2 separate regions of the Homo sapiens genome follow, and region 1 is linked to region 2. Evidence: fine-mapped expression QTL. A gene starts in region 2. The other region holds a variant in brackets. All regions are shown on one strand. Distances are between the middles of the regions.

Region 1 (2,903 bases), 150 kb after region 2:
TCAGCGAAGCTCTGCTGAGGGGCCGGGGTCATGGACCCCAGTGTACACAGGCTCTACTAGGGGATCCTATCGAAGCCCCCTCCCCCGAATGGCCTCCAGGAATCTGTCCTGGCTCCACCTCTGGAACCTTCATTTTCTTACATCTTGCCTGTAGCCATCACCACACTTGGCAACCTACTGTGTGTCACCTAGCTCCCCTACTTATGGGATGACTACTTCAATTCTTCACTCTCTCAAACTTCCAAGGCCCTCCTATCCCCCCCTCACCTCTGGCCTCTGCCCACTAGAGGACCCCCACTAGTAATACCCCTTAGTTGTGACAATCAAAAATGTCTCCAGACGTTGCCAAACATCCCCTCAGGTGGAAAATCACCCTCAGTGAGAACCACTGATCTAGACCAACAGCCAGCCGCTCTCTCTCATGCTTGTGACCCACATCTGGAATGCACACATTTGACTGACCTTCATCTGTCTCTTGATGCAGCCCTTTTTCAAAGCCCAGCATGGCTGGGCATGGTGGCGCACGCCTGTAATCCCAGCACTTTTGGAGGCCAAGCCGGGAGGGTTGTTTGAGCTCAGAAGTTTGAGACCAGCCTAGGCAACATGGTGAAACCCCATCTCCACAAAAAATACAAAAATTAGCCGGGTGTGGTGGTATGCACAGGTGGTCCCAGCTACTCAGGAGGCTGAGATAGGAGGATTGCTTGAGCCTGGGAGTTCAAGAACAGCCTCGGCAATATGGCAAGACCTCATCTCTTAAAAAATAAAAAAAAAAAAAATTAAAAAAACTTGATCACATTTTTCTGGAGGGGAATTTAACAATATTTATCATAAGCTTTAAGTTAATAGTGTAATATAAAATAAGCTGAGCATGGTGGCAGGCACCTGTAATCCCAGCTACTCAGGAGTCTGAGGCAGGAGAACTGCTTGAACCCAGGAGGTGGAGGCTGCAGTGAGCTGTGATTACGCCACTGCACTCCAGCCTGGGCAATAGGGCAAGACTCCGTCTCAAAAAAGAAAAAAAAGAAAAGTTAATAGTGTAATATTATGAACTACTGATACATGAAACATAGGTGAATCCCAAAAACATAATGCTGAGGGAAGAGTACATACACCAGGCGGGTGGCTCACGCCTGTTATCCCAGCACTTTGGGAGGCCAAGGTGGGAGGATCGCTTGAGCCCAGGAGTTCTAGACCGGCCTGGGCAAC[G/A]CAGCAAGATGACCCATCTCAATTTTTTTTAATTAAAAATAATAATAACTAAAAAAACCCCAAAGCCCAGTGGACTGACAGGCAGACAACATACATACACACGCCCCTGTAGATTTCGAGGTGTGATTCGGACACCTCTGTGTCTCCCTGGTTCCAGTGTCCCCCTCAGTTGATCTGAGGAAAGCAGGACGCACTCACCCCTCCCCCATGGGTGTGGCTGGGGGCGGGCTCCACAGTACAAGCCTCTGCTAAAGAAATCTGCTTCCACCGGGCAGGTGGCTCACACCTGTAACGCCAGCACTCTGGGAGGCTGAGGCGGCTGGATCACCTGAGGTCAGGAGTTTGAGACCAGCCTGACCAACACGGTGAAACCCTGTCTCTACTAAAAATACAAAATTAGCCAGGCGTGGTGGCACATGCCTGTAATCCCAGCTACTCAGGAGGCTGAGGCAGAAGAATCGCTTGAATCCAAGAGGCAGATGTTGCAGTGAGCTGAGATCATGCCACTGCACTCCAGCCTGGGTGACAAGAGCAAAACTCTGTCTCAAAAATAAAATAATAATAAAAATAATAAAAAATTAAAAAAATAAAAAATAAACCTGCTTCCTAGTCTCTGGCTCCTCTCTCTCGGCCTGTCCAACCGCTTTATAAGTTGGATGTGGGTGGTCAATACAGTGACTCAGAACTACCAGTTCTCAGACATTTCCCTCCCAGCCCTGCATAGGTGGTCTAGCATCCCATGCTGGGATTGGGAGGGGCTGCCCTGCCTGTCTGGGGCCTCAGCCAAGCCTGAGGCAGAAGGAGCCTGCTAACTACCATCCAGGTGCTCATTCGAGGCCCCTCTTCTCCTCGCCTCAGGATTCTTTCCCATTCCTATTTACTCAACCTCTCCCTCCTAACTAGAACCTGCCCACTGACATTTAGACATATTTAAATCTCTCCTGAAATTAAAAAAACAAACAAAAAACTGCTTTGAAAACCCCAAATCTCCTTGCAGCTACCTCCTAATTCTCTCCTCCCTTTCAAAGCCAAACTTGTGAAAAAGCTGTCTGCATCCACAATCTCCCTTTCCTCACCTCCCACGCATTCCAGTCTGGCTTCCCCCCTCATCAGTCCCCAGAAGCATCTCTCCCTAAGATGGTCAGCGATGCTCAGACCGCCAGGCTGAGCCTGGAGAGCAGTAAGCTGGCCTGGCCCGGGCAGGACCTTGGCCATGGGAGCAGCAGTAGGGTACACAGTGGTTGGTGTTACCCAGGGTTGTCAATGTCAACTGCAGACGATAAACTAGAACTTCTGTGCAGTTCCAGAAAGAATATCTGGCCTTGAGTCCTGAGGCTATGCCAACACCTACTTACCTTCATTGATTCATTCATCCATTCAATAACTCTTTACTGAGCACACTTGGGCCAGACCCTGAGGTAGGCACCTGTTATAAACTTGGTCTCTACCCTCATGGAGCTAACTGCCTGGGCATTGGTCAGAGTCATGAAAATACACAAAGACGACCGAGATGCTTGATGGAGAAGTACAGAGTGTATTACTGTGGGATCAGATCTAGCCTGAAAGGTCAAGAAGAGATTTTCAGGCTGGGATCTGACCAATGAGTAGGAATTAGCTAGTCCGGGAGGAATGGGGAGAAAGAGATGATAGAAGACTGGGGGAAAGGTGTCTCTTGGGGACAAAGAAGCCAGGGA
Region 2 (2,903 bases):
GGCGGAAGAAGAAATGAGAGTGGGGCCGTCGTTATGACTAATTTTGTATGTCTTTAATAAATCCCAAGTACATGCAGCAAAATGTATTGATGTCTGTTTAATCTTGATAGTGGGGGGCGTGGGTAGTATTAATATTATTTTCCGTACTCTTCCGTAGGCCTCTAATATTTCCCTCTTTACAGAACACTGACACACGCTCAGGGCTCCCCGGGACATCTTTGTGCACATCAACATTTATGCTGAGAGTAGCTTCTGGACTCCAAAGAGGAAACTCCCCGGGCACTGTGGCCCACGCCTGTTATCCCAGCACTTTGGGAGGCTGAGGTGGGCAGATCGCTTGAGCCCAGGCGTTCGAGACCAGCCTGGGCAAAATAGCGAGACCCACCCCCGCCCCCCATTGCTACAAAAACATTTACAAACTAGCCGGGCGTGGTGACCCCCGCCTGTGGTCCCAGCTGGTCGGGAGGCTGAGGTGGGAGGATCTTTTGAGCCCGGGAGGTCAAGGCCGCGGTGAGTCGAGATCGCACCACTACACTCCAGACCGGGCGACAGAGAAAGACATCCATTCACTCCCCCAAAAGAAGGGGAAATTCGCTGAGGCTGAGCGCTGGTTTCCCAAGGTGGGGCTGGCACCTGCTGAAGCTGCCACAGGAGTGGAGAGGCCGTAGGGAGACTTGGAAAGAACCTGGAAAGGGGGCCGGGGCTATGGAGCCAAGGCTGCAGCAGGGCTGGATGGTGTTTGTAGTTTGTGCAGAATAGGAGGCAGTTTTTAAAGCCGAGATACAGCTCTGGTTGACTGGAGCGGGGAGGGGTGGGTGTGAGAGGTCAGGAAACCAGCGGCTGGAGGCCGGGGGCCTGGAGCGGCAGGGCTGGCGGGCAGACGTTAGGCCCCAGGCAAAATGGGCGCACCCCCTGCGGGGGCCCGAGGTGACCTGCTCGAGGTCCGGTCGCCCAGGTTCCACCTGGAGAAGAAAATCTTCGTAATTTGGCTGGGGGAGGGGGGATGCGGGCACAGGCTGTGTTCTCCACGTCGCGTAGACGCAGAGGCCATCCCTGGGTCGGAGAGTCTCCGTGGAGTGGCACCCCAGCGTTCCCCGTACGCCGGGGCCACTTTGTCGGGCTGACGGGGGTCCCTCCAGGTGGCCGCCGGCGGCGGGTCCCGAGCCAGACCGGGAAGCGGGGAGCAGCCCTCAGCCCGCGAGCGTGGGGCCGGGGCAGACTGGAGGCCGGGCGGGCCCCGCCGAGGGTGGGGCGGGGCCGGGCGCACGGGGGCGGACCTCGGCGCGCTCCCGGCCGCTCGCTGGCTCCGGGGCCGCGGCGGCTCCTCTGCCGGGTCGCGCCGGACGACTGGCTTCGGGCGGCGGCCCCGGCGGCCTGTGGACGGACGGGTGGGCCGAGGTACAGGCCCCACGGCCGCCGTCTCCCGCTTCTGCCCGCGCAGAGTCCGCGCCATGGCCGCCTCGCCGGGCTCGGGCAGCGCCAACCCGCGGAAGTTCAGTGAGAAGATCGCGCTGCACACGCAGAGACAGGCCGAGGAGACGCGGGCCTTCGAGCAGCTCATGACCGACCTCACCCTGTCGCGGGTGAGGGCCCGGGCCGGCGCGGGCGGGGGCGGCCACGGCCGCGGGCGGGACCCGCGCGGCGGGTGAGAGGTTGCGGGGCCAAGGCGATGGCGGGGCCGGGCGGGGGCCGCGCCCGGGAACCGGCGGCTGGGAGGGGGACCGGAGCGGCCGCGGCCTCGGCGTTTCCCCGCCTGGCGACACCCGCTAGCCGTTCGCGATCCCGGGCTGAGGTGGGAGGGTCGCCCGGCCCCGTGTGCGGGAAGATGGGCAGGGGTGAAGCCCGTGGAGGCGGGCGGCCGTGCGAGGGCGGCCTGAGGGGGAGGAGGACGAGGAGCCCCGAGAGGAAATCGCAAACAGCTCGGAGGCCGGCCGGGTGGCGCGGCGCGGCTTCTGGTCGCTCCGAACATCCCCCACCATCGAGCCCTGCTGTTCTGCCGGCGTGGAAGGCCGCGGGCACCCCAGGGTCCCACGCGCTCGTGGGGGGAGCTCTGTGCACAAGTCCATCCAGGGCCCGGCCCTGGGGTGGCTCGGGTTGTTGGAACCACGACGGGATTCCGTGTCGAGTGTGAGGCTCTGCTCCTTTTACTCCTTGGAGGTGCTTTATCGGGTCCAGTTTACTTTGTTCGGCCCGGGATATTTAGTGAGAACTGACAAGCGTCGCTGGTGACTGGAGAGGGACCTGGAGGAATGAGTAAGGCGCGAGCCGGGACAAACACCTGGAGAGGTTAGGTAACCGCTGAGTGAGGCAGTGGAGGATGGAGAGCCAACCGGAGTGTCCGCGCAGGGTTGCAGAGAAGGGGGGTCAGCAGGAGTGGGGCTGGCCTTGAGGATCCTGAATGCTGACCTTGGAGGACCATCGGGAGGATGGGGGAGGATCTGCAGATTCTGGGGGACTGAGGCGGGGGAGACAGTTTGAAGGAGAGCTGAGAGCAGAGTTGCAAACCAGCTGAGTTGCAGACACATTATTTTTTGGCCAGCGCAGTGTTTGGGAAAAATTATTGAATCTGTTGCCAGAATTTTTAAATTGGAAGACTTCCACACAAAATCCAAATTTCCGTATTATTTATTTATTATTATTTATATATGTTAAAAATTGGGAGACCTGGTAACACTAATTCTGAATTCCTACATGACAGCTACCGACCTGCTGGAGCTGGGTGATGATGAAAGGGAGCTGAGCTGAGCTCCCTTTCAAATGGAGTAAGAACTCTAGTTTGCCACCGTCCACTCTCTGTCACAGTCCCCCAAGGGGAGATTAGGTGACAGTTGCCATTTATACTCATGATGGTGTTTTCTTTCAGTGAAGTTAAGGAAAAAGTGAAATATTTCCTGTACTTACAT

Alleles and levels. Positions count from the first base shown, and alleles are read on the strand shown. Sizes are in standard deviations (SD) of each study's normalised expression.
For the expression in CD4 T cells of the gene that starts at base 1,303 in region 2, allele A in region 1 goes with a lower level than allele G (small effect, 0.40 SD a copy in BLUEPRINT).

The links. PIP is the estimated chance that this variant, and not a neighbour inherited with it, causes the effect.
Region 1: its variant is fine-mapped to the expression of CRTC3 in CD4 T cells (BLUEPRINT, PIP 0.95).

The regions. Positions count from the first base shown.
Region 1 is chr15:90,682,146-90,685,048 of GRCh38, forward strand. All of the region lies in intron 2 of CRTC3-AS1 (CRTC3 antisense RNA 1), which reads right to left. Among named protein-coding and RNA genes, the nearest start is that of LINC01585, 23 kb to the left of the region's middle. RefSeq lists an enhancer at 912-1,412. The variant G/A (reference allele first, on the strand shown) is at 1,210.
Region 2 is chr15:90,528,621-90,531,523 of GRCh38, forward strand. It overlaps CRTC3 (CREB regulated transcription coactivator 3), which reads left to right and starts at 1,303. Exons shown (of 15, transcript NM_022769.5): 1 at 1,303-1,583. The coding sequence starts at 1,452. RefSeq lists silencers at 757-806, 907-1,656, 1,677-1,856 and an enhancer at 2,247-2,406.